Linked DNA regions of Homo sapiens: region 1 is linked to region 2. Evidence: fine-mapped expression QTL. A gene starts in region 2. The other region holds a variant in brackets. All regions are shown on one strand. Distances are from middle to middle. Region 1 overlaps ECT2L (epithelial cell transforming 2 like). Region 2 holds the start of ECT2L (epithelial cell transforming 2 like).

The links. PIP is the estimated chance that this variant, and not a neighbour inherited with it, causes the effect.
Region 1: its variant is fine-mapped to the expression of ECT2L in left ventricle (GTEx, PIP 0.90).

What each region holds. Positions count from the first base shown.
Region 1 is chr6:138,864,949-138,880,462 of GRCh38, reverse strand. It overlaps ECT2L (epithelial cell transforming 2 like), which reads right to left. Exons shown (of 22, transcript NM_001077706.3): 12 at 15,285-15,467; 13 at 12,257-12,360; 14 at 3,905-3,991. Among named protein-coding and RNA genes, the nearest start is that of ECT2L, 77 kb to the right of the region's middle. The variant T/C (reference allele first, on the strand shown) is at 8,858.
Region 2 is chr6:138,791,463-138,805,602 of GRCh38, reverse strand. It overlaps ECT2L (epithelial cell transforming 2 like), which reads right to left and starts at 9,516. Exons shown (of 22, transcript NM_001077706.3): 1 at 9,411-9,516. It overlaps CCDC28A (coiled-coil domain containing 28A), which reads right to left. Exons shown (of 6, transcript NM_015439.3): 6 at 12,284-12,854. The coding sequence ends at 12,800.

The DNA of each region.
Region 1 (15,514 bases), 74 kb before region 2:
CCTCCAAAATTCAGGTGTAGCCAATGTGACAGTATTAAGAAGTGGAGTCATGAAAACATGGCTGGGTCATGAGGACTCCTCCTTCATGAATGGGATCAGGTGCCCTTAGAAAGGGGCTTGGCAGAGGGAGTTGGTCCTCTCTTGCCTTCCACCATGTGAGCACTCCAAGAGAAGGCCCTTGACAGATGTTAGCATCTTGATCTTAGACTTCCCAGCCTCCATAAAGAATTTCTGTTCTTTGCAAATTACCCAGTCTCAGGTATTCTACTGCAGCAGCATGAACAGGTGAAGACACCTTTTCATTATTAACTAATTTGCTTCCCCAGCTGACATATGAAAAATCTGAAGCATATGCTCTTCTTTCAGTATTAAGGATCTAACTTCAGTATGAAGGATAGACTTGGAGCTATGAGCCCATCTCTCCTGGCTAGCCAGGTTGCCAGATGTGCTATGTTATGTTTCCAACTGTTGTTTTGTGTATTTATTTATTTTATTTTATTTTTTTCTTTTGATATGGAGTCTTACTCTCTTTTCCAGGCTGGAGTGCAGTGGTGTGATCTCAGCTCACTGCAACCTCCGCCTCCTGGGTTCAAGCAATTCTCCTGCCTCAGCCTCCCGAGTAGCTGGGACTACAGGTGCATGCCACCATGCCCAGCTAATTTTTGTGTTTTTGGTAGAGACGGGGTTTCACCATGTTGGCCAGAATGTTCTCGATCTCTTGACCTTGTGATCCACCCACCTCAGCCTCCCAAAGTGCTGGGATTACAGGCATGAGCCACCTTGCCCAGCCTCTTGTTTTATTTTTTAATGCAGAGGTGAAAATCATACACTGGCCTAAAGAAATTCCATACCCTGATGTTGTGTGTGCTATGTTTATATGGAGAGAGAAATTAATTTTTATTGCTGGTACTAGATAATTTTTTTCTTTTATTTGCATATTTCAAAAGCTATAAAATGAGCATCTTTATACCAGAAAATTTATAATATCTAAATTTCAAAAACATAATGTCCTTCAATTTTAGCCTAGAATTATTATTTTCCCTCCAGCCCTAAGTATACCCCACACTGCCCCCAATAAAATATGACAATACTGCTTCTGCCACTTGTGCTGCTTGCGGACCTGAGGTGACTCCAGCACTCAGCATGGTGAACAGAAAGCTCAAGGAAGGGTCAGAACTGCTCATATTAATTTTAGGGTGGTGGGCAGGATGGTTCCTTGGTGCAATTTAAGATTAACAGGCATACACCACTTAGTAAACTAATGAAAGCCTATTGTGAATAGCAAGGCTTGTCAATGAGGCGGATCAGATTCCAATTTGTCAGATGGCCAATCAATGAAACAGACACACCTGCAGAGTTGGAAGTGGAGGTTAAAGATACAATTGATGTGTTTCAGCAGCAGGCAGGAGGGGTCCAGTAAAAAGAGAACTTGCTATTTTACGCCAGAGGCTATTCTTACAGACCAAGACTGCATTCTCAACTAAAAAACTGCAATCTGGTTCCACTACATCCTAACTATTACAGTATAGTTTGCTCTATTCTTTCATTTCCTTCCCCATTCCTTTATTGTACATAAGGTAACTGATGAATATGCACAAGCATTTTTAAAAAAATTAGTGGCTAATGGTATGGCTAATGTATTCGTGGCTAATGGTATACCATCAACATCAAATGGAGATGAGAAGGGGAAAAATGCTTCTGTGAAAAGACCTCCTTGGCCACGTGCGGTGGCTCATGCCTGTAATCCCAGCACCTTGGGAGGCTGAGGCGGGTGGATCACCTGAGCTCAGGAGTTCGAGACCAGCCTGACCAACATGGCAAAACTCTGTCTCTACTAAAAATACAAAAATTAGCTGGGTGTGGTAGCACATGCCTGTAATCCCAGCTACTCAGGAGGCTGAGGCAGTAGAATCACTGGAACCTGGGAGGCAGAGGTTGCAGTGAGCCGAGGTCATGCCACCGCACTCCAGCCTGGGCAACAGAGCGAGACTCCATCTCAAAAAACAAAAACAAAAACAAAAGGACCTCCTTTCTCCCTTCGTGGCATGCTCATTCAGCAGTTATCTTTATATTCCAATCTGTTATCTTGCTCTCATTGTTTTAACAACAGCAATATATGTATATATGTATGTGTGTGTGTGTGTGTGTGTGTGTGTATATATATATGTATCTAAATCCTTGCATACCTTGTTCAATTGGAGAATTCTCATGTTTTTCATTTATCATTGTAACACAAAGGGCACATTTTATAACGTTTTCGTACATACCTCTTATATGTAGGGCAATCTGTCTTTAAGTGAGGATCCATTAGTTGATAAAAATGATTACCAGATAGTTTTTCCTTCAAGTCAAACACCTTGTTGTTTAAATAAGTGCCTTGTTTAAAATGAAAAAATGTGTAATGCTATGTGATCTTCACCAAGATGAGTTAACCATAATTTCATTAACTGGAATTATAATGTAAAAAAACTTAAGAGAAAAATGAGAGAACTCACTGTATTTGAAATATTATAAACACACTCTTCTTTTTTTACATTTTTTATTTTGAGACAGGGTCTCCCTCTGTCACCCAGGCTGAAGTGCAGTAGTGCACTCATGGCTCACTGCAGCCTCGACCTCCCGGGCTCAAGCAATCCTCCTGCCTCAGCCACCAGAGTAGCCACCACAACAGGCTAATTTTTGTAATTTTTTTGTAGAGACAGGGTTTTTCTATGTTGCCCAGGCTGGTCTCAAACTCCTCTGCTTAAGCGATGCACCTGCCTTGGCCTCCGAAAGTGCTGGGATTACAAACATGAGCTGCCAAACTCTTCTTGTTTATTTTCCAAACACATGGTCTGTCTAGAATACCTATTTAGACATATCTAATAAGGTAAAAAATACATCTGCATCCTACTTGGCAGTTGGCTTACAGTCCATATTATTTTTTTAATATTATATGTGTATTTCTGTATGTATATATTTTTACATATTGGAGTTATCCAACATTTATAATCATTTTGAACTAAGGTTTTCATTGTCAAACCTTGTGTTGTTATCTTGAAACCACTATGAGGTATTATTACTAATAGTCAGATGAGATACCCTCATATCCACTGCTCTATGGAACATGCTCCTCCTGGGTGTTCCTAGGGATGGGTTTGGGGCAAGTGGGCATCCATGTCCTGGGGCTCCACGGCCTGCACTGTCTGCAGCCAGGGTGTCTGGGGCTGGGAAAGAGCCCCAGGTCTGAGCTCAGGGCTGCAGGACTTAAGATTTTTCTTGCCCAATTGTCTGGCCTTAGGGAAGTCATTTGACTTTTTTCCCCCATGTAACTTTTCTTAACTCTAGTTCTTTATCTATAAAATGTGGCTAGGGATGTGTCCTTTATAGGATTCTGAGAATGAAAGGTGATAATAAGTGTGTTTGTGTGTTGAAGAAAACAAAACAGTGTGCCCATGCCGTGGGTTACACAGGACGAGACCGGCCCCTGCTGAGGCTGCAGCTTCCTCCACACTTTACCCTTGACACAGAAAGACGGAGCCCTAGACATTGTGTTCATTAGATTCAACTTTTGAAGTCAGACTGTAAGTTGGTAGATTAATTAGAAACTGTGAGCCTTTGTCCATGTGCCATTTCTTTAAAAGACATCCTAGTACCATAAAGGAAAGTCAGGGAGTAACATACAGATTGGTTTTGCTCCAAGATGTTACACTGCTATCCTTCTGGCTCAACTTCTTTTCAGTCTGGGGCTTATTTGAAAAAAAAGTCTGCCAGCTGAATTCTCTCTAATAATTTTTGAGGTTTTTTTTTTTTAATCCCCCAAAGGGAAATTTTCAAGGAAAATGAAGAACTAACCAGAATAAAGGCTGAAATTTCACTATCAGGAGCAAAACCAATGGTAAAGTTACATTATATAATAGCTTACCAGATTAATCAGTGCTTCAAAATTTAAATCATTTTTGCTGAGCCTGGACTTTGTGTCCCAAGAATTGTCTTCTACAACATTTCTTTCCTGAAGATTGAATGGAAACTTGGTTATTGGAGGCAGGTCTTGACATCTCTGAAAACTCAGTACTGTGCCCGCAGGAGGCCCTCAGAAGCCTCTGCCTTCAGCCCCAACCACAGTGTTCCCTACACACAATGAGTTAAGTGCTTGCAAATGGGATGCCACTCTTACATTCAATTTTATGTTTTTTAAAAATAGCCTTTGCTTCTTTTGAACTACATAATACTTGAGAACTAAATCCAGCGTAGCTCCCTCTTCCTTGGGAGCCAGGGAAGTGATGCTGGGCTGGGGCTCCTCCCAGGCTTAAAGACTCACACACATTCCTGGGTAACAGACTTCTTTTTTTTTTTTTCTTTTTCTTGAGATGGAGTCTCACTCTCGCCCAGGCTGGAGTGCAATGGCACAATCTCGGCTCACTGCAACCTCCGCCTCCCAGGTTCAAGCGATTCTCCTGCCTCAGCCTCCTGAGTAGCAGGCTTACAGGGCCCACTACCACGCCCCACTAATTTTTGTATTTTTAGTAGAGATGGGGTTTCACCATGTTGGCCAGGCTGGTCTGGAACTCCTGACCTCAGGTAATCTGCCCGCCTTGGCCTCCCAAAGTGCTGGGATTACAGGCATGAGCCACCAAGTCTGGCCAGGTAACAGGTTTTTGCCTCAGCTCTGCTCTGTTCCTTCTCAGTTGAGGGCAAATAGGTTATTTTTATTTTTAAGATCCAGAAGGAAAAGCTCACAAAACTCACTCCTTTTTTCACCACCAAGTGAAAATGTGTCATAAACAGTTCACATAACCTTTCTAGACCTGCACATTTAAATAAGGCTTATTCTTTCTTCACTTTACCTTGTTAACTATTCTTGCTGTGGCCTCTCTCAAACTTAGCACATTTTTTTAAAGCCCTCCACCCCCACCCCTGCTGCCTGCAGTACCCCAGGGTCTACCCTAGCAACACAGCAGTGGTCCTGTGTTTATGTTGAGGGATGATGATGGTCAATGGTCGTTATTGCTGCCTTCCTCATCAAAGACAAAACTACCAATGGCAACCCTTGGATGTCCAGGGATGAGGCTGGAAGAATAACTTCAATTTGTAACCAAGGCTCCTTTTACCTTACTCTACTGAGGCAAAAGCGAATTTTTATTTTGGAGATGCCACATTGCTCTGGCAGCCTGAGCCTCTGCAGAAGAACCCTGGTCTGCAAACCTGCAGCCAGCTAGCTCAGTCCCAGATGGCAGGAGGTCCCACCTGAGCCTGAGTGCTTCCTGTCTGCTCCAGGGAGTCTTCTAATGATTTCTTTTGTCCTCTGCACTTGTGGCTGTCTCATACCAGCCTGGCATGTATCCATACTTATGGCTTGGAGCCAGGGAGGAGATCTACTTGTTTTTGTTTTGTTTTGAGACAGGGTCTCACTCTTTCACCCATGCTGGAGTGCAGTGGTGCAATATTTGCTCACTGCAGCCTCGACCTCCCAAGCTCAATTGATCTCCCACCTCAACCTCCCAAGTAGCTGGGACTACAGGCATGTGCCACCATGCCTGGCTAATTTTGTTCATTTTTTTTTAGAGACAAGGTCTCACTATGTTGCCCAGGCTGGTCTCAAATTCAAGTGTTCCTCCTGCCTTGGGATCCCAAAGTGATGGGATTACAGGTGTGAGCCACTGTGCCCAGCCAGTATCTTGCACTCCAGCGTGGATGATGGAGTGAGACTGTCTCAAAAAACAAAAACAAAACTCTCAGGTTGGGCCAAGATTAAGATAACCCAAACAGCACACAATTGTATTGTGGATCTCACAGATAAGGGAGCCATCTTTCTCTGGGAGATCACCTGACTGTACAGGCTCACATGAAAATTTATGCATTAAAATTCAGGTGTCATCATGGACCCCCCCAGACCACCTTGGCTATTTTAGAACCTGCTCGCTTACAGTTGGGCTTTGTTTCACATTCCGGCTCAGCAGCAACTTACTTTTTTAAATATAATTTTTTCTTTGTGGATAGGACATTGATTTGGCATAGTAATTTTGTTTGAACCTAAAATTGGCAAGTTCACTCATTTTATATTATATGTTTAATTGCCAGAATTTTTACAGCTTAATTTTAGATTCCGATGCTATCTTTTACTTAGTTTTTATGGATGAATTCAGAGGAAGTAACATGGCAGAAACTTTGCACATTTATAAGACAACTATCATTCTGGGTTGGTGGGTCTTTGCCTTGGCTCTGCGGGACATATAAGGAAGACCATTAAAAAAAAGCTCACAAAGAACATGTTAGGAATTTTTCTCTAGGATGGAGCATGGGCAGACACTATTTTCCAGAGACATTCTAGTCATTGTTGATGCTTCTGCCAGCAAACACTCAGCTGCCTGGATAAGGGGCCAGAAATAGTTGTGAAAATGACAGGTAGAGTTCAGGAACAACTATAATTCTGGCGGGCAGCCATCACCATGGTTGCATGGTATCAGTGTAAACATTATAGGCAGACAAAAACCAGGAGCAAATAATGATTGGGCAGCAGGATGATAGGTAGGTAGGTAGGTGGATGGATAGATGGATACATGGATGGACACACACACACACACACACACACACACACACACACACACACAGTCCTGGATTTGACAGATAATCCGTATTACACAAGCCTCTCTGGGAGGGTTTGTTTTTTTTGTTTTGTTTATTTTTTTGAGACAAAGTCTTGCTCTTGTCGCCCAGGCTGGAGTGCAGTGCTGCAATCTTGGCTCACTGCAACCTCTGCCTCCCAAGTTCAAGGGATTCTCCTGCCTCAGACTCCCGAGTAGCTGGGATTACAGGCGCCCACCACCAGGCCCAGCTAATTTTTGTATTTTTAGTAGAGACGGGGTTTCACCTTGTTGGCCAGACTGGTCTCAAACTCCTGACCTCAGGTGATCCACCCACCTCGGCCTCCCAAAGTGCCGGGATTACAGGCGTGAGCCGCTGCTCCCGGCTGGAAGGGTCTTTAAAGCAATTATCTCAGAGAAGCTTTCATTTTCCCCTCCTTTGTCTCCTGAGGCTTCTGAATGAATATCCAGTTTTAAAAATAAACCCTAATGTAAGGAAAATCAGCTTTTCTATTTTTATCCTAATGCAACACTGACGTTTAGCTGTGGTTCTTCCTCCTAGAGGTCTCCGCATTTGTTCTGTGGGCTTTGTGCCCAAGCTCTTTAGTGTTAAATAGTAGAGAATCAAATGAGAATCTAATATGTATTTTTTTCTAATTCGATTTTTTTTAATCAAATTTCCAGGCATTAAGGAGTTTTGCATTTTTCCAGTTTTATTACAGGCAGACAATGTAGCAATAGAGGGCCTGATTTCCAGCAATGAGGAACTTTCAGCCCAAATTTCATGCATTATTTTATGAACATAATGAGCTGTTCGGATCAATAGCCAGTTGAAAAGACTTCATTCATTTTGAATTTTATTTGGCAGAGGAACTAGAGGAGAAAGTGCCTCAGAGGAACTGCTCCAAGTGATCATTCCCTTAGGTTTCAATGAGCCCAGAAATGGTTCTCACCAAGAGTTAGGTCTTTCACATGTGAGAGTGGCACTTCAGAGGAGGAAGCACCTTAGTTTGGTCCTTATTGCTTTCTTGCTCCAAAGAGGGGGTTTTCTGGGATCTGTATGCCTGGGTTTCGAGGTAATAGCTTCACCCTTAGGAATAAAGGTGGGTGAAAGAATCCAATAAGGATTCCAGGGAGTCAGGAATCAGCAGATGTTGAAAGGACTTTGGAAGAATTTGGAACCTGTGTAATGTGGTTATATGTTGATCATTCCCTTTAGTGAACCAAGGGAAAATGAGTGGTATTAGAGGCCTGGGTGCTGTTTTTCAGGTTTTCATAGGCTAAAGGATGGATGGAGACTATGTCCACCCTTTTGGGAGAATAATCTCCAAGAATTTCAAAGAGATGGTGGCTGGCATAATGAAATGAAAGCAGCAGCCTCTGAGAAGCAGAAAGAGGAGTCTGGACTAAATGCCCATCTGGCGTTCCCACCCTGGGGTTCCCATCCCAGCCCGTGCGTTCTGTTAACAGGTGCTAATCATGCTGCACCACCTATTTGTGTATCAGCCTCATCCTCCACAAAGGCAGGAACTGTCTTACTTTGCTGTCTAGTCCCAGGATTTAGCAGAAGGTCTAGCATGTGGTTAGCTGGTTAGCTCCTGCAAATATTTAGAGAATGGAACTAAAAAGATGAGGAATTGCCCTCTGCCTGAGAAGTTTCCTGAAAATACCGATTTGGGGGCAGGGCAGCCAGCAAGCAGGGCTTCAACCTGTAAAGGGCTTAGATATCCCTGGAAAGGCATTTAGACTCCTCTTGGGATGGCCAGGCGTGGTGGCTCAGGCCTGTAATCCCAGCACATTGGGAGGCTGAGACAGGAGGATGGCTTCAGCCCAGGAGTTCAAGGCTATGGTGAGCTATAATTGTGCCACTGTACCCCAGCATGGGGTGACAGAGCGAGGCCCCATCTCAAAAAAAAAAATTAAAAAATAAAATAAAGACTCCTGTCTCAGGGAGTTGCTTGTGTTTGGGAAGAATAAGCCACTTGGGCACTTTGTCGGGGAGGGGAGGATTAAAGTAAGGGTTGTGCTATGGTAACAGCAGAAGGGTAGGGTTTTTTGTTGTTGTTGTTTTGTTTTTTTTTGTTTGTTTGTTTTTGAGATAGGGTCTCACTCTATGGCCCAGGCTGGAGTGCAATGGCGCGATCTTGGCTCACTACAACCTCTACCTCCCTGGTTCAGCGATTCTCCTGCCTCAGCCTCCCAAGTAGCTGGAACTACAGGTGTGCCCCACCATGCCTGGCTAATTTTAGTATTTTTAGTAGAGACGGGGTCTCACCATGTTGGCCAGGCTGGTC[T/C]CAAATTCCTGGCCTCAAGTGATCCACCCACCTCTGCCTCCCAAAGGGCTGGGATTACAGACGTGAGCCACTGCGCCTGGCCAAGGATGGGTCTTAATGACGGCAGGCCGTGTGCTGCTGAGTTCATTTGGGGCAGCAGGCAGAGGGAATGCTGCCTCCAGCAGTTCTCTATGTCTGCTCCTGCCCTGCCCTGCACTGTCCTTTAAAGAAGCATTAACAAATACTTCCAGAATATCAGGTTAATAGGGCAACAAATGATTTGCCTGCTAGAGGTGCTCACAAGTCTCTTACTCCTAGCAGCCCTCCATGGTGAGATTATGTTAGGGACTGCCATCCTACGCCTTCAAACATCAAAGACAGGTGACTTTCCTATGGACATAAAATGGTTCTAAAACAGTATTTTCCCCTACATAGAAATCAGTTATGTGAACGACAATGTAATTCTCAGCATTTCTTGAATCCTGGTTATTTCATGTAAACAAGAATGCTTGGATTCCTAATATAGTACTGGCAAAATTATTCTTTTTGGCCTGATGAACTAGTTTTATTTATTTACGACAGAGTCTCACTCTGTCACCCAGGGTGGAGTAAAGTGGTGCGATCTTGGCTCACTGCAACCTCTGCTCACTGAACCTCCCCGGGTTCAAGCAAACCTTGGCTCACTGAACCCCCCTGGGTTCAAGTGATTCTCCTGCCTCAGCCTCCTGAGTAGCTGGGATTATAGGCATGCCACGATGCCCAGCTAATTTTTGTATTTTTAGTAGAGACGGGGTTTCACCATGTTGGCCAGGCTGGTCTCAAACTCCTGACCTCAAATGATCTGCCCGCCTGGGCCTCCCAAAGTGCTGGGATTGCAAGCGTGAGCCACCGCGCCCAGCCAGAACTCGCTTTAAACCCATTTTTTTCTTTAATGAATTTGAATCTCAACTAAGAAAAAAAAGAACTATTCTTAGTTTCACCTCCCTCAAAAAAAAATTCCCCTTAAGTTCTCTCAGGGCTCATAAATGTCAAAGCAAAATGCAAATTTCTACCTTTCTCCCCACAACCAAATAGTGTTACTCAAGTTAACATGTTGCAGTTTATGCTTTTAAGCGGCTTAAATGTTACTCATATTATGAAACTACAAAACACCCTATTTTAGTAATACTTCATGAAAATAAAATTCTTTGGAGAAATGACAAGTTAAAGCTTCCCAGTAGAGCTCATATAATGATTTATGAATTTCTTTATCACATGTGCCTAACTCTACAGAAAAGCAATGGCATAAAAATTCAGCAGCAACTTTACCTTCATGAATAAACTGAATGTTGTCTTTGGGTCACATTTTGTTGGAATAACATTTCCTTCAACATCTTTGATCTTTTTGCCACATTTCTTCAGCAGAAAATACGACAAAAATTCCAGAGGTTTGTCCTAAAGAATGCCCAACCCCCCCGCAAGAAAAATGCCCATTTAAAACATTCTTCTGAAATACAGATGTCAATACTGCAGCAGAAGAGAGAGCACACTTTTTAGCAGGGATTTCAGCTTTCTACCTAATTAATTGACATGTCCAGAAAACAGAGTGACTAGTGCTCAATTCAAGTCAGTACATGAGACTTTCTAGTTCATCTCATATTCCAGTTACCATATGTACTCTTGGTTCTCAACAATTTGTCACAATCCAGTTAAGACACCAAAATTTTATGGGAGGGTCTCTCAAGATCTTTGGAACCAAAGTGGCCCACACCAACCCCTTGGCCAAATGAGGAAACGGGACAGGAAGGATCTTGTTGTCTTTCAGGGGGAGGAAGAAGGCCTGGGAGAGAGGCTGCAGTAGCAGAATTGCTGGGAAAACATGCTGGGGCTCTCAAATTTGGTTCCCCTCAGGCTATAGGTTTGAGCACCATCCAAATTATATCATACATGGTTATTTTTAAATAATTAGGTGGAAATAAGTACACTGAACTGACACCAAGCATGCTGAGTAATCCTTCAGTGTTTTGGCAGACAGTGAGGGGGCACCTCTGTGAATATCCCTGCTCATTTTATCAGCAAGGCTCGCCAAAGGCCTTTCGTCATTGGGCTGCCTGAGCCTCACTGCAGAGCTGAGACTTCACAGGAGACAAACTACAGCTAATGCAGCTTCGCAGCCCCCACCCAGTGCAGGACAGCTACGCCCAGAAATGCCTGGTGCAGACCCAGGAAGCCACACTGAAACAGGAGCAGATACTCAATAATAAGGAGAGAGAGAATGTGTGCAGAGACAATGTTAAATTCACCCACAAAGCAGAATTATGATGGTGGAAGAGAAAGATTTGAGACTCTCCTTGAGAATTCCTTGGAAACTAGAGAATTTAGATTATTGAATATGTTAACAGCAGCCCTATCTCCATTCTATTCCCGACTCCCCTCAGAGGGAGAGCTGCACGTTGCCTTTTCTTTTCTTTTTCTTTTTTTGAGACAGAGTCTTGCTTTGTCACCCAGGCTGGAGTGCAATGGCACGATCCCAGCTCACTGCAACCTTCACCTCCTGGGTTCAAACAATTCCCTGGCCTCAGCCCCCTGAGCAGCTGGGATTACAGGTGCCCGCCACCATGCCCGGCTAGTTTTTGTATTTTTAGTAGAGACGGGGTTTCACCATGTTGGCCAGGCTGGTCTCCAACTCCTGATCTCAAATGATCCGCCTGCCTCGGCCTCCCAAAGTGCTGGGATTACAGGCATAAGCCACCACGCCTGGCCACATTGCATTTTCCTATAGCCATGCTGTCCTCTTTGGGGCTGGGAGAGCTGTCTGGAGACTGGCCTCTCCTCACTATTTTCTGAAATGTGGACTGGCTCCTTCTCACTGTTTTCTGAAGTGTAGACTGACCTTAATGAGAGAGAACCTTGGATCTGTGTCTGATGAAATTGTTTCTTTGGGTTTCTCCTACACCCATCCCCAGCCGAATTACTGATTTGCTTCTTTCCGTTCCGTTGTGTTCTCTTTCCCTTCCTCTCTCATCTAGCCCCTTTTCCCGTCATCTTTTCACATCTGGGTCACACTTTCTCAGATTTCTCCTGAAACTAGGAATTGGTTTCTCTGTTGAGTAAAGTTTATGTGAAATATAAAGCCACTAACATGTTTTATTAAAAAAAAAAAAAAGTCACTTCTGACTGAAATTAAGCACAAGACAGAAAACAGGGCACAATGTAATAAACTTTAAATAACCTAGAAGATTTTCCTACTTGTCTGTTTTGTGTACTTAACACATCTTGGGCCCAGAATCTCTTAGTGGCTATTTTTATAAACTGATGTAATTTCTCTGAGGAACTGTGCTCTGAAAGGGATAAACTGGTCAAAAAAATTAATAATAACTGCAAACAGAATTTATTTAAATGTTGGTTTTCATAGTTTACTTTCTTCAAAGAAACACTTACAGAATCTTCTTTTGACAACTCCATCAATCCATCTGCCAGAGCTTGCGCAGTATCTTGGTTGTTTAGAATGTTGGTCATACCCATGGTGTCAAACATAAACTGCCCTGTAAATACAAGGCCACATGCCCTGTAATTGATTTATGTAAGAAATGTGATTTAAAAACAACAACTCAGTCCTCACAGTTTCTTTTTTTTTTTTTTTTTTTTGAGACAGAATCTTACTCTGTTGCCCAGGCTGGGGTGCTGTGGCAAAATCATAGCTCACTGCAGCCTTGATCCAAGTGATCCTCCCACCTCAGCTTCTCAAGTAACTGGGACTATAGGCATGCACCACCATGCCTGCTTAATTTTTTAACTTTTATTTATTTATTTATTTTGAGATGGAGTCTCGCTCTTGTCACCCAGGCTGGAATGCAGTGGCGCAATCTGGGCTCACTGCAACCTCCGCCTCCTGGGTTCAAGCAATTCTCCTTCCTCAGCCTCCTGAGTAGCTAGGATTACAGGTGCCTGCCACCACGCCCAGCTAAATTTTTTTTTTTTTTTTTTTTTTTGTAGTTTTAGGAGAGACCGGGTTTCACCATGTTGGCCAGGCTGGTCTTGAACTCCTGACCTCAAGTGATCCTCCTGCCTTGGCCTCCCAAAGTGCTGGGATTACAGGCGTGAGCCACTGCAGCCAGCCAACTTTTTAACTTTTTGTAGAGATGGGGTCTTGCTGTGTTTCCCAGGCTGGTCTCAAACTCCTGGCCTCAAGCAATCTGCCCACCTCAGCCTCCCAAAGCATTGGGACTACAGACATGAGCCACCGTACTGGACCCACAGTTGTTTTTTTAGTGGATAAAAATGCAAAGAATAGCAGTAAAAATTCTATTATGCAATGAGGATTTCTACTATGATAAAATATAAAATGAACCAAAGTAATTTAAATGTCTAGTCTATAAAAAGTGCCCACTCCGGCAAAGCTGATATTGAATGAAATGTATAAATTGGACAATAAGGAGAGAGCATGTGAAAAGGAGCTCAATAAATTTAAATGTAAGACTCTCGATCCTACCAGGAGTTCCTCTATATTCTCCTTTATCTCTGCGCTCAAGTAGGCATTTGTTTTTTTGTTTTTTTGTTTTTTTGTTTTTTTTGAGACAGGGTCTCATTCTGTTGCCCAGGCTGGAGTGCAGTGACGCGATCTCAGCTCACTGAAACCTCTGCCTCCCTGGCTCAAGCAGTTCTCGTGCCTCAGCCTCCTAAGTAGCTGGGATTACAGGCACACGTCACCAGGCCCAGCTAACTTTTGTATTTTTCTGTGGAGACAGTGTTTTGCCATGTTGCCCAGGCTGGTCTCAAACTCCTGAGCTCAAGCAATCCACCTGCCTTGGCTTCCCAAACTGCTGGGATTACAGGCATGAGCCACTACACCAGGCTTCAAATATATAAATATTTTAAAGTCCAAAGTAAATAACATGCAAACATACATACACGGACATCTTTTAATTTTTAAAATATTTTTAACACCATGCAGTTATTTAAAAAATTGTTTTTCCATTTTCTTCTCATTGCCTACATATATTATTTAATAAATACTCTTATCACTTGAGGTCAGGAGTTCGAGACCAACCTGGCCAACATGGTGAAACCCCGTCTCTACTAAAAATACAAAAAATAGGCTGGGCACGGTGGCTCACACCTGTAATCCTAGCACTTTGGGAGGCCAAGATGGGCAGATCACTTGAGGTCAGGAGTTTGAGACCAGCCTGGCCAACATGGTGAAATCCCATCTCTACTAAAAATGCAAAAATTAGCCGGGCGTGGTGAGGCACACCTGTAATCCCAGCTACTTGGGAGGCCCAGCCTGGGTGACAGAGTAAGACTCCATCTAAAAAATAAAAATAAAATAAAAATTGGCCAGGCATGGCGGTGCATGCCTATAATCCCAGCTACTCAGGAGGCTGAGGGAGGAGAATCCCTTGAACTGGGAGGCAGAGGTTGCAGTGAGCTGAGATCACACCATTGCACTCCAGCCTGGGGACAAGAGCAAAACTCTGTCTCAAAAAAAAAAAAAAAAACTATGAAAAATACTTTCTCCCTGTTTACAACTTCATAACCATTTTAAAATAATGGTTGAACACCTCCTAAATGTGATAGAGTAGGTAGTACAAATAAGCAGGAAGGCAAATCCCTGTTTTGGAAGCATTTATGTAAAGAGATATAGGACATACATTGACAGATATCTACTTGCACGCTTGCGTGTTACAGCTCTTGTGTAGATGGTAACTATGTAAACAGACCTTAAATATGGAGCTGGGCAGAGGAAAAGAAGAAAGGCATAGATAGAGGGTGATTTGATTCATATGGTGTTTTAGTCAGGCGGAAAGTAGTAGGGGAAAAATTGAATAGATATGAGTAGTTGCAGATGAGAAAAAGAAAAACTCTTTACCTAGATGGTGAAATATACTTAAAGAATGGACTAATTTAGGTAAAGATGCAAAGTTGAGGAAGTAAATTGTTTTCAAAGGGCTCTGCTGTGATCATTCATTCCGTCATGGGGCTGGGGTGTGAATGGAAACATTCATTCAACCACGTCTAATAGGCTCAGCAAAGGCCCATGGAGCCCATCACTGAATTATATATTTTAGACAGAAAATAAATAGAACTTTAATTGTAGAACAATTTATGTAATAGGTGCTGGGGTATAAGAGGCGCTTAACTTTCAGAGCAAATTCTAGTGGGAAAAGTGCACAGCTCTCTGGCTTAGCAAACAGCAAATTGTGTCTAGGTAAATAAGTGACAAACAAGAATTAATAAGGTGGTAAAATGTTAAAATAAGAACGAGCTTCAACATTTTGAACCTGAATATATTTGTTGTTAGTGGTTGTTCGTTATATTTGAAAGGCCGTGTGAGCAACCTAGGAGATAAAATTTTACTGGAGATGTTCAAGAGTAAAATTTTACTTGCGCCATAACTAAACTTGTATTTACTCGGGATATGAAAGCAACTTCATAATTAACCTGCAACAGAAGTAGCAAGACTGCTTACCTATCATCCTGCCACTGATGCTCTTCTGCAGTTCCTTGAAGAAAGGATACAGCTGCTTCCTTACTGTTTTCAAGGTTTCTTCTAGGAAGTCTGTGAAGCTGGACCACGTCTGTAGCTTCGATTCGCAGAAGTAGATGGAAGAGGGGGCCTTTCCCCATTGGGATCCCAGCCAATCACTAAGAACTGACATGATTTTCTTCTGTTATTATTGCAGGCTTGAGCTCAGATGA
Region 2 (14,140 bases):
TAAGCTCCCATGTGCAACCACATGAATCACCCCAGCCCCCTACATACAAAGAGAAGAACTGCCCAGCTGAGGCCAGCCAACCCATAGAATTGTGAAAAATAACACGTTTCCTATTTCAAGCTACTAAACTTTGGAATGGTTTGTTATCCAGAACAGACTGACAAAGCCATGTGTTGGTGAGCATCCAGAGCTCTCACACAGCTGGTGAAAGTGCAAATTGGTATATGTACTTTGAAAAACTATTTGGCGTTATTTCTAGAATAATGCCAAACTTGACCCAACTGGAAAAAATATACATGTGGACTAAAATATATCACCAAGAAGATGCACAGCTGCACTGGATAGCTCCAAACTGGAGACAACCCAAGCATCCACCAGTAGTCCAGTGGATAAATCTACTGTCATGCATTCACGCAATAGAATACTATACGTCAATGAAACGAACAGCCTGCTGCTACACAAAACAGTAAGGATGAATCACACAATATATTACACAGAGGAAGCTGCGAATAAAATAATACATGTGGCACGGGTTCATTTACCAAAGTTCTACCCTGTAGTGTTAGACGTCAAGATAAGGTTTACCTGTGGGGAGGAAAGAGAGGGTAATGATTGGGAGGGGACACAAGAGGTTATTCTGCATGCTGGTGCTGACGTAGAGAGGGAGCCCTAGACTTCCCTGCGTGCTGTGATTCATTGAACGTTACACTCATGATCTGCGTGTTTTTCTATGTCCTGTATTTCAATCAAGAAGTTTATAAAATGATATTTACAATAACATCAAGTACCACTAAGTACCTGGAAAAAATTAAGAGTGCCAACTTTATGAAGAAAATTATAAAACTTTATTGAAAAATACTTTTAAAGTCCTAAATAAATGGAGAGATATGTCTTATTCATGGATTAGGGGACTCAGTAGAGTGAAGAGATTAACTCCCTCAACTTGATCTACAGATTCAATGCAATCTCAGTAACAAATTCCAAGAAATATTGTGTGTGTGTGTGTGTGTGTGTGTGTGTTTAAAACTTCAAAGCTGATTCTAAAATATTTATGGAACTTTAAAGTGCCAAAACCAGTAGTCTTGATAAACAAGGAAGGGAGCTGTGTTTCTAGATACCAAGACTTACTATAAAGCTGTAGTAATAAGATAATAAAGGTATTAGTTTGGGGACAGACAACAAAACCTGTGGAACAGAAGAGAAACTCCAAAATAGACCCAGGTATACAGGGACACTTGTTAGATGACAAATCAGAAAGGGAAGGGTGGATTGTTTCATTTATAGAAAACGGAATATCTGTTTTATAAAAGAAAAGAAATTGGACCCCTTTCTCACACTATATACACACGCATCAACTATCTAAAATTTTTTCATATGTATAAAATCAATTACGCATGGTCTGTGAATCCCCAGAAGACAAAATTAGGAACAGTGGATGATGTCAGAGAGGAAGATTTTGGCTCAATCTAAGTGGGAAAAAAATCACTCCACAGCTCTCGCTGTCTCCAGAGATTATGTCCATTACTGGAGTTGGTAAAACTCAAGGTGGACAACCACTTGTCAGTGATTTTCTAGCTGGGATACAAGCATCACAAACATTTAAGTTTCTAAGCAACCCTCTGTTGCTATAAATTCCAAGAAGAGAGAGTACAACGTGGCTTGGTGTAGCTGAAGAAACTTTATTAAAGAGTCAGAATAATTCTAGAATAAGACAGACATTTGCAGTGCCTCTGCTCTTATTACACTTCAAGAGAAGAAGCACATTTTTTCAATGAATATATTAGAAAGGCATGTATCATATTAGGAACAATTTTAGAAATGTTACAGACGAGCAGCATGGCATAGTGAGCACCAGATTTGGATCTCTGCTTTGACTCCCCAAAATTGAGGCTTTACAAGTGATTTAGTATTTGGGCCTCAGTTTCCTCATGTGTAAAGCCAGACAGTAATGTGTCTTGGCAAACTATATTATAATAATGTGTTGTTCAGATAAAAACCTCTTGGCAATATGGGAAATTAAATACCTCCTTCTGAATCAACACTAAATGAAAACAAATTCTTAGTTTCTTAAGATGCCCAGCTGTTGTTATGTGAAATCCAAGAGCCAACATATGGGATTTTTATTTAGCAAGTTCGCAAAATTGTTATTATACTCTGTGTTAAGGGATTACTGAGTTATATAATGAGCTGAACATTACAGAAAGAATAGTCGCTGTCTCTGCTGGTGGGCTTAAATATGTGAGCATAGTATAGTATATTGTGTGTGTGTGTGTGTGTGTGTGTGTACATGCATATATGTACAAATTTGAACAGGATTATTTTCTTTTTCTCTTTCCTTTTTTTTTTTAGAGTTGGGATTTCACTGTGTTGTTCAGACTGGAGTGCTTTGGCACAATCATGGTTACTGCAGCCTCAAATTTCTGCCTCAAGTGATTCTCTGGCCTCAGCCTCCCGGGTAGCTGGGGCTACAGGCATAACCAACTGCTCCTGGCTCAGGGTTATTATCATTATTATTTTTTTTTTTTTGAGACAGTCTCTCTCTGTGTCGCCCAGGTTGGAGTGCAAGTGGTGCAATCTCGGCTCACTGCAATGTCTGCCTTCTGGGTTCAAGCGATTTTCCTGCCTCAGCTTCCTGAGTAGCTGGGATTACAGGTGCACACCACCATGCCTGGCTAATTTTTGTATTTTCAGTAGAGATGGGGTTTCACCATGTTGGCCAGGCTGTCTCGAACTCCTGGCCTCAAGTGATCCACCCACCTCGGCCTCCCAAAGTGCTGGGATTACAGGCATGAGCCACCTTGCACTGCCTGCCTCATATTATTTTGATTATGTGAAGATATTAATTTCGTTGACTATTCAACCCAGGGAGAAATGGCAGCCTGGCAATTACTACTTCTTTAATGGAATAATTTCTTTTCCTATTCTAGCTTTTTACATTCCTCCAAATAGTAGTTCCATAAGATATTAATGAGTATTTCCCCAGAAAACAGGATCTGTGATTAAATGATTGAGATATTAAACTTATTTCTTTTTTGTAGGATGTTTTGGATGTTTTAATATGCTTAATGTTCACAACGAATCTTCAAAAGGGGAAAATAATATCCAGCATTTTCCCTTGTTCATTGTTATATGGAGACTATCACAGTGTGTATTGATTATCTAATGGGGTTATCATACTGTTTATTTAATGCTGTGTAACAAATTGTCCCAAAACTCAGTGGCTTAAAATAACAAACACTTATTATCTCACAGTTTCTATGAGTGACAAGTGTAGACATAGCTTAGCTGGGTCCCCCAGCTTAGGGTCTCTCACCATTCAACTGTCAGCTGAGGATGCCACAGCTGGACTGGGGAAGAATTAACTTCCAAGCTCACATAACTGATTGTTGGAGGGATACAGTTCCTCCTAAACTGTTGGAATGAGAGACTCAGTTCTTCGCTGGTTGTTGGCCACAGGCTCCCCTCCCATGTGGGCCTCTCTATAGTTTAGCTCACAAAATGGCAACTCACTTCCACCCAAGTGAGTGAGCAAGAGAGCAAGAGCGGGCAGGCAAGATGGAAGCCGGAGCCCTTGTGTGGCGTAACCTCAGAAGTGACAAGTGACACACCATCACTTTTTGATTCATCAGAACCGGGGTTTAGCAAACACAGTCAGCAGGCCACATCTGGCCCACCACCAGATTTTATAAAGTAATTGGGATACAGACAATCTCATTTATGTATTATCTGTGGTTGCTTTTCTTTAATAAATTTCATTTATGAGTCTCCTGTTTTCCTACTGTTTCCATATTTACTCAGTATTTTTCTTCATCTACTTACTGGAGAATTTTTTTTCTTTTTTCTTTTTTGAGACAGAGTCTCGCTCTGTCACCCAGACTGGAGTGCAGTGGCATGATCTTGGCTCACTGCAACTTCCACCTCCCTGGTTCAAGCAATTCCCCTGCCTCAGCCTCCTGAGTAGCTGGGATTACAGGTGCATGCCACCATGCCTGGCTAATGTTTTTTGTATTTTCAGTAGAGACGGGGTTTCACCATGTTGGCCAGACTGGTCTCGGACTCCTGACCTCAGGCAATCTGCCCACTTCAGCCTCCCAAAGTGCTGGGATTACAGGTGTGGGCCACCGCACCTGGCCTCTGTGGTTGATTTTTTGGCTACAACAAAATTAAGTAATTGGGAGGAAGACCATATGGCTCAGAAAGCAAAAAATATTTATTATCTGGGCCTTTACTGAAAAAGTTTGTCAACTCCTGCATTATAGGTGTCTACCCACATCTAAGGGGAGTGGATTCACATAAGGCATATAGACCAGGAAGCTGAGGTCATTGGGAGCCATTTTAGAAGCTTCCTCCCACAATAGTGTCTGCCATAGGATAGGTATTTGGCAAGTATTTGCTGAATGAGTAAATGGATAATTGTTGTATAATTGCAGTTTAAACCATAATTGCTATGGTTTGAATGTGTCACCTCCAAATATCAGGTTTTGAACCTTAATGGCCAATGTAATGATAGTAAGAGGTTGGGCCTTTAAGAGATAGGTCATGAGGGCTCCTTCCCTTGTGAACTGGAATTCAGACCCTTACAAGGCTTCACACAGCATTCACCTCATTTACCCTTCCACCTTCTGCCATGTGAGGGCAGAGCATTCCTCCCCTGCGGAGAATGCAACAACAAGGCATCGTCTTGGAAGCAGAGAGCAGCCCTCACCAACCAACCAGACCTGTCAGCACCTTGACCTTGGATTTACCAACCTCCAGAACTGTGAGAAATACATTCCTATTCTTTATAAATTACCCAGTCTCAGGTATTTTATTATAGCAGCACAAACAGAGACATGCATCTGCCAATTTTCCAAATTCAGGGGCTAAAAAAGCAAGTTATTAGTAAGAAAAAAACAAATTCCTTCACTATTAGGATTTGACAACTGTGTCACAACTGTGACAACTTATCAACTCTGTGATCTTCTTACTAGCAATTTCCATCATTATGTTAAATGAGTCATATGGTAAAATAAGCTTAGAATTGAATTAAATGTAGATTTGACAGATTATTCTTTCATGACATCAGCAAATTAGAAAAAATGGAAGCATTTTAAGGGATTCATTTGAGATAAGAATTCATTCTGGGGCAAGAATATTTATTGTGCATTCTGGTTACAATACAGCAGTCACCAGTATCTTCTATATACCAAGAGAGGCTCAAAACCTTAGTGTATAAAACCAAACTCTCAACCATTTTCCATCCTTTCTGTGTGTCTTTTCTACAGAAGCTAAAATACTGTGCCATGAAGTTTTTCCTTGATCATTTAAGAATGATCTTGTTCTTCTACAAAGTGGCATGTCTCTACTGGAAAAAACATTGTGGCTGCCATCTCACAGCCCAGCTTTTTACTTTGAATTGAAACTCCAGTGTGGGTGATGTAAACTGGAGGCCCCTTTGTTATCTCGCTCTGAAAAGCAGGGGCCTAAATGCTTCTAAAGTCTGTTGCAAGAAAGGAATAAAATAGAAGACCCCAATCTGTGTCTCTCCTCATTTGCAACTGGATCCAACAAACATGCTAAGTAACAAGATCAAAATGGGGAGGGGGGCGTGTAATAAATGTTGTATTTAACATCTTAATTTTTGTTTGAGTGTCTACACTGACTGACACGGCACTAGAAAATCTCTTCCCCCATACACTGGCTCATTGAATCTTCAGATTCACCCTGGGAGTTAGATTATACAAGAGAAGAACATGGCAGAGAAAATCATCCAGTCGGCATGCAGTGGCTCACACTTGTAATCCAGGCATTTTGGGAGGCCAGAGTGGGTGGATTGTTTGAGCTCAGGAGTTCCAGATCAGCCTGGCCAATATGGCAAAGCCCCATCTGTACAAAAATTAGCCAGGTGTGGCGGCATTCACCTGTAGTCCTAGCTAGTTGGGAGGCTGGAATGGGAGGACTCCTTGAGCCCAGGAGGCGGAGGTTACAGTGAACCAAGGTCCAAGATTGTGCCACTGCTCTCCAGCCTGGGCGATACAGTGAGACCCTGACTCAAAAAAAAAGAAAAGAGGCCGGGCGCGGTGGCTCACGCCTGCAATCCCAGCACTTTGGGAGGCCAAGGCGGGCGGATCATGAGGTCAGGAGATCGAGACCATCCTGGCTAACACAGTGAAACCCCGTCTCTACTAAAAATGCAAAAAAAATAAGCCGGGCGTGGTGGCGGGTGCCTGTAGTCCCAGCTACTCCGGAGGCTGAGGCAGGAGAATGGCATGAACCCGGGAGGCGGAGCTTGCAGTGAGCCGAGATCGTGCCACTGCACTCCAGCCTGGGTGACAGAGCGAGACTCCGTCTCAAAAAAAAAAAAATCAGAAAATCATCCAAGGTTACACAGGTAGTAATTGCCTATCAAGTTTCAAAATTATACTAGATTTTTCCTGAAGGGTAAGTTTAATTTGAATTGGATATAAAAGGATATTAAAAGAAAAACTTCAGCCGAATTAAATTTACAGGAGTTTAATTGAGCAATGGACGATTCGTGAATCAGGCAGCTCCCAGAATCACAGCAGATTCAGAGAGACTCCCGGAGTGGCTTGTGGTCAGAACAAATTTATACACAAAAAAATGAAGTGATGTACAGAAATCAGAAATTAGGTACAGAAACAGCTGGATTGGTTACAGCTCAGCATTTGCCTTATTTGAACACAGTTTGAACACTCAGCAGTGTATGAGTGGTTGAAGTACGGCTCCTGGGATTGGCCAAGACTCAGCGATTATTACAGGCACATACTCCTAAGTTAGGTTTTCATTCTTGTCTACCTATTAAATTAGGTTGCAATTCACCCACAAGCATTCAAATATAAAAGTACAGAGTCCATCTTAGGCCATATTTAGTTTGCTTTAACAACTGCTACGGATGTATTTGGAAATACACTTCTATGTCGTGGCTGACTATCCTTTACAACTGGTATATTGATGAGGAACTCGGAAATTGACATTGGCACTTCCATGCTTAGTCAAAAGAAGGATGGGGCCTGTTGTGTGACAACCTGTGATATGGTAGAATAATAAGAAATATATATATTTGATCTTTGTCCCTGGTTCCTGACATACAGCTCCTAAAACTCTTGTAGATAGGGATGCTAGGAGAATCTTTTGTTCTAATATTTGGTTTTTGACCCCAGTTCCTGACACAGAGCTCCGAAATCCCTTGGAATTTCCTGGGTGATAGGAGCATCTTTTGTTCAGATGAAGTGAATCTTGGTGGACCCCTAGATAGCTTCAGGATGGGGGCTGGTTACCAGGGAAACCAACCATGTGATTATGCAGCTGGAACTTTCAGCTCCATCCTCTGACCTCTGGGGAAGAGAGAAGGGCTCAAGTTGAGTGATCACCAATGGCCAATGATGTCATCAATTGTGCCTATGAATGAATCCTCCATTAAAATCCCAAAGGACAAGATTCAGGGATCTTTGGGATAGCTGAACATGTGGAGGGGCTGAGAAGGCATGGAAGTTCCACACCCTTGCCCACATACCTTTCTCTGGGCCTCTCTTCTATCTGGCTATTCATCTGTCCTTTGTAATATCCTTTATAATAAATGGGCAAACATAAGTAAAGTGTTTCCTTGAATTCCGTGAGTCACTCTAGCAAATTAATCAAACCGGAGGAGGGGCTTGTGGGAATCCAGATTTGTAACTGGTTGGTTAATCATAAACAACATATAGTCACAACCTGGGACTTGTGATTGGCATTTGAAGTGGGGGGCAGTCTTTTGGGACTGAGCCCTGAACGTATGGGATCTGACACTAACTCCAGGTACACAGTGTCAGAACTGGGTTAAATTATAGGACGTAGAGTTGGTGGCCACTGGAGAATTGGTTGTCGGTGGGAAGAAATTCCCATACATTTTGGTGACAAGAGGTGAAGGGCTGTACTGAGTGTGTGAGAGTAAAGAGAAAAAAGTTTTTTGTTTTTTTTTTCCTCTCAGAACAACCAAAGCCAGATTAAAAGATGAAATGGCTGAACAATTGCCAGCCCATATAGAGAGCTAAATCCTCACTGGGATCACACAGAAGAGCAATGATGTCAATTAACTGTGTTTCCACAGGTTATCTGTTATACAGCTGGAGAAATGCAAGTTAGTCTGGTCCTTCTCCACTACAGTAGACAGAGTGGCTTAGAAATTAAAACACTGCTCCTCGGCAGAGGTATGTACCTACATGCGCGTACTTCTGCAATTCACACATGCAAATTGTGCAATGATTCCTTTATTTATCAAAAATTTACTTCCTTAAATATGCCTCCAAAAAGGTATCTGGTTCTAAAGATCGCACAAAAGAACGGGAGTAGAAGAAAAGTAAGTGTGATTGGTGAAAAAACAGAAATGAAAGACAATTCCAGTTGAGTTAAATGTCCCACATTTAGGGCATGTAAAACTACATGCCAGTATATAATTTTTATTAAGTACACACTAAGCAATGGATAATGAAAATAATGGCGTGTTTTGAGGAAACCTGGGCTATTGATCTTACAGGCGGTGATAGAAAATACCATACTTGTGCTGGTATTTTCAAATGGTGGATGTGCTCACTGATTTATAAGTTTAAAGCTATAAAACTAAAGCTGTAACAAACAAGATGCAACTGTTGCTATAAAACTTCCAAGTCCTTAACCCTTCTTCCTCCCACTGAAATAAGTGTTTGTAGAGCATGATTTTTGAGGTTTCTGTGGAGCACAAATGTCAGTTCCTGCAGAACAGACTTTAACAGGCTTGGATACAATTGCATGGGTTGCAGTGAACTTTAACACCAATGATGTCAGGATATTGTGTTCTGATACATATGCAAAGTTTATTAATAAGCACAGCATCGGTATTTTTAAATCGATATTTTAAAGTACCACTGTTTTATTTGTCCTGCTCATCAAATCTTAGCATATTAACTCTTAGAGCTATCCTTATAACCAAGACCTATATTCACAGTAGATTTTTTGTATTCCTCCCTCATTCCCCCAACCCAGCCCCCACCCTACTCCCTACATTTTTGGACCCCATAGGAGGAAAGAGGGAGAGAACTGTCAGAAGGAAGAAGGCAGTTGGTGTGAACCTATGAAAATCAGCGTTTTCCAAAGTGTTCAAGAACTTTACTTCGATCCCAAATCAGTTCTCTGGAGGAGGTAAGAGTTTACTTGGCATGGCCCGATGCAAACCCTACCCTACGCGTGGATTTTGTTTCTCCCCAGAGCCTCTTCAGAATCTTGGTTAATTCCAGAGCTGCTAAGGGACTCCAGGGTCGCGGAGGGAGGGCCCTGCGCCCCTCAGCGCTGCTTAGGGTCTTCCTGGGCGACTGCACTGGGAAACTAAGCCGGCCCAGGCGATGTGCCCCGGGCGGCCCCAAGAAAAAGACTAGCGGCTCAGAAGCCACGGGCTTTACCTCTAGGAAGTGGCTATGAGGCCCGGTACAGTGGCGGCTGTCTCCTCTTGGAACCGCGCAGTGAAAATCGAGTGCGCCAACTCGGGCCGCAGCTCCGGAGAGGGGTGGGGCAGGGACAGGGTCATCTCCATAGGGATCCAACAACACGGAGCCACCACCCCGCCCCACAGGCCCGCAGCCCCTCCCGCCGCCGCGCCCGGACGGCCAACCTGCATCTCCCCAGCTGCAGTGAGCAAAGCCGCCCGCGCCGTGCGAGCCACCGCCCTTCTCTTGAGGCCAGCTAGGCTCGGGTCCCGGCTCCTTTCCCTGCCTCCAGGGAGCTTGCGGTGGGAGAAAGCTTCCGTGGGGTCCCGTGGGTCGCGGCACGTCTCGGAAGCCCTGCGAGGTGCCCAGCAGAGGTGCCAGACCCAAGGCCGTGGGACCCCAAGAAGAGACTTGGACACTGAAGCCAACGTTTGCTTGATCTCAAACAAAGCCAGCGATGTTAATTAAGGCTGTGTGATGAGGAAAGTGGAGTTTCTTATTTTTTGTCACATTCATCTTCAGCAGATCCTCAGAAAATGTTAATATTTACTGCAGAATTACCAATTTCAGCATTATACAGGAGGTACAAAAACAAAACCAAAAAACCCTTCTTCATTAGTTTCAGGTCAAAATGTCTTTTAACTATTTATTGTGAAGCCTGTTTTTTTCTTTTGTATGTAATAGTTATGGCCATGAAAAGATGCTCACAGTACATTACTTACAAAAAGCAGCTTAGAAAACCAGCAGAATGGTACGATCTATTTTTTTTGCAACGTGTGTAAGAAATCTGGGAGTATGTACACAAATAGGTTAAATGGTTTGCTCTGGTAGTTTTAAAAATCATCTGTAATTCAATTTTTCCTACAACGAATAAGCAACATCTATGTAATAAACCATAAGTTTCATTCTAGTAAAGTTTCATATGAGAAATGTGATCTTGCTATGCTGCCTAGGCTGGAGTGCAGTGGCTATTCACAGGCCTGGTCATTGTGCACTATATTTTTATTTTTATTTCAAATATCTTTTTCTTTTTCATCTGTATGCCAGTAAAATCATCATTGTACACTATAGCCTAGAACTCCTGGGCTCAAGCAATCCTCCCGCCTCAGCCTCCAGAGTAGCTAAAAGTACTGGTGCCTGTCACCAAACCAGGCCTTAAATTTTATTCTAATCCAGGCACTGCATTTTTTCCTGTTTCCTTGAACATGTGTTTAAGGAGTGTGAAAGGATACAAATTAGATAAGCTAATATTTCGCTACCTGGGACCCATTTAGGGCCCTGTGACACAAAGGGCGAATGAACCAAGTGAATAAACAAGGTCAATCCACTGCTCTGTCACAACCCGCAGGAACCAGCTTTTTGCTTTACTCTATCTCAGGACCAATCCAAGAAAAACATGTCACATGACAAAGTGTCCTTTCGCCCTGTCAGACCCTAGAGTACGACTTTTTCCCCCTTAAATCCCTATTCTCACAACCCAAATGAAGTTTCCTCCATGATGCTGTAATTTTTAAAAGGGGTATTAAAAAGACCAATTTACTGATCAAAATACTTTGAATTCAGAAAGCCAAAAATTATTAAAATCAAGATTTGAAAAATATTCAGTAAGTCCCTCTCCTCCCCTCCCCCAATTAGGTGCTTATTTCTGTGGCCTGGAAACAAGGAGACAGAAGCATGAGCATCTTCTGCAACACAAAGGTAACTGAGTTATAAATAAGCAAAATGTGTTCTATCCATACCATGGCATATGATCAGCCAAAACAAGAAATGAAGTACATGCAATAACATGGATGAAGCTTCAATCCTTGAAAACATCATGCTAAGTAAACGAAACCAGTCACAAAAGGCCACGTATTGTATGATTCCATTTATATAAAATGTCTAGAATAGAAAATCCAGAGAGCTGGAAAGGAGGTTAGTGGCTGCCAAAGGCTGAGGGGATTAGGGGACAAGGAGTGACTGTTAATGGGATTCTTTTTAGTGTGATGAAAATGTTCTAGAATTAGATCACGGTGATGGGTATATAACTCTATGAATCTACTAACAATCACTGAATTGTACACTTTAAAGGGGTACATTTTATGACATAAATTATTGTTTCAATAAAGCTGTTTTTAAAGGGTGATGAAATTAATGTTTACTGAGCATTACTGGTATCAGCTATTGTGCTAGGCATCTCTCTTTTTTTTTTTTTTTTTGAGACAGAGTCTTGCTCTGTCGCCTAGGCTAGAGTGCAGTGGCACAATTTCGGCTCACTGCAACCTCTCTGCCTCCTGAGTTCAAGCAATTCCTGTGTCTCAGCCTCCCTGATAGTTGGGATTACAGGAGCCCGCCACCACGTCCGGCTAATTTGTGTGTATGTGTTTTTAGTGGAGATGGGGTTTCACCATGTTGGCCGGTCTGGGTATTGAACCCCTGACCTCAAGTGATCCACCTGCCTCAGCCTCCCAAAGTGCTGGGATTATAGGCGTGAGCTACCGTGCCCGGCTTGTGCTAAGCATCCTATACGCGCTTTTTCACTTACTCCCCATACAACAACTACCAACTTGGTTACTGACCTCATTTTCTAGATTTAAAAAAAAAAAAAAGAAAAAAGAAAAAAATCCAACCTGAGTAAACGTGCATGAACACAAAGTTAAGGGGGCAGAACGGCGATTCAAATTAAGGTGTAAGTAACTTTAAAGCTCACATTCTTTCATCACACCAGTATTTAAATGTACACAAGGTACAGAATTTGCAAGGAGTTCAAGAACCTCAAATTTTATAAACACAGTTTACTTTTAAGGATTGAACCCTTGTATTTCCCAGATTGAAGACTATATGGGTTTCTTCAAAACAGACAACAGAGATTAATTTAAAACAATTACTTTATTAAAAAATAGCAAATCTCACAAATACTTATTTAATTTCTTATCACTGGCCATTGGAAAACACACCAGCATGTGTACTGATTGTCTAACATAAACTGAAGCTGGGCTTGCCACAAGACGCCTGTGCATCAACAGCTTGCGATCAACACTGGAATAAGTTTGGTGAGCTCAGGAAAGAGAAATCCCTCCGCCCTGTCAAGAACATCAGCACAATGCATTTCAAGTATAATCCCATAAGGCAACAATATGAAGCACAGCAGCACAATCTCTGCGTCACATTTCCTGATGAAGCCTTCAACAAGGCCTAGGCCTCCAGTTATGGTGAATTACAGCGAGTCACATTTACTAAAAGCAGTAAGTGAAAACGATCATTGAACTTGCACTTTAATTACTTTAATTCCTTGTTGTGGAAGATGATTCTGCTACTGGATTTGGCTGGAAAAGTAAAGACTGCTGCTTCTCTTCAAATCACAAGAAAGCAAACTACATTTCATTTTAGCTAGCAGAAGTATTTGGAACATCTTGTGCATCTGCCAAATGGAGTTTTTGTCTGAATTAATCAGTTAAGAAGATTTTCATTCTATAAGGGGTACTTCTTTTACATTTCTGAAAATTACATTCAGGAGCAAAGAGAAAGCGGTATTTAAAAAAGAGATATGTTCAAAGGAAAAGCTCTTGTGTTGCTACTGAGACACTCAGATGTGGTAAGACAACTTTTAAATGTAGTAAATTATACTCTTGTCTAGAATTTGAAGACTTTTTTTTTTTTAAATTTTAGAGATAAGGACTCACTTTGTTTCCCTGGCTGGAATGCAGTAATACGATCATACTTCACTGTAGCCTTGAACTCCTGGGCTCAAGCAATCCTCCCACCTCAGCCTCCCAAAGGCATGTGCCAACATACCTGGCTAATTTTTCTATTCTTTGTTAGAGATGGGGGAGGAGTCTGGCTATGTTGCCCAGGCTGGTCTTGAACTCCTGGCCTCAAGCAACCTTCCTGCCTCGGCCTCCCAAAGTGCTGGGATTACAGGTGCGAGCCACCACACCTGGCCCAGAGTTATTTTTAATGTGTCAATAATCATTTTCATAGTAAGGAGCTGATTAGAGACAAACATGACAAGACACTAGATTAAAAAAATCTTTTGAGAAGACACCACTTTATCATCTTTGGGAAAACAATTCTGTTTAAAAGTCCAAAAATAAAATCATTACAGCTCTAAAATCTTTTCTATAATTCTCTTAATTGTTCCTCAAGAAGACTGGAAATAGGACGGGAATCTTGCATGAATTACTCATCCCTTATTATAATCACTGTCTTTCATTTTTCTCACTGACCTGTATTTATCCACCTGTTACTTATTTTTCAAGACCCAATTCAATGATATGAATACACTGAAGGCAACTAAATGCTTGCAGTACATGTATGGCAGAGGTTGCAAAAATGTACAGACATAAGCACTGCCATCAAAGACATTCTTGTCCAATTGGAAGGCTGAGATTTAACACATGTAAAAATCAACAGATAATAATATAAGGCAGAATGCTAGGTTAAGGTACAAATGAAATCCTTTATGGAAGTGGTCAGCTTGAATGTAACGTGATAAGGAGAACAAGGAGGTGAGAGTAACTCTAGGTAGGAGGTACAACCTGAACAAACGCATTATGATGAGAATGAACATGATGTGTTTCTTGGGCATCCAGAAAACCAGCCTGAGGGGAATGAAAAAGAATGAAAAATACAACAGCATGTGCATACAGGTTGTGACCAAATTATTAAGAACCTTTAAAATAGTTGACATGGTTTAAAAAAAATGGTAAAAAATAGAAATGGCAGGA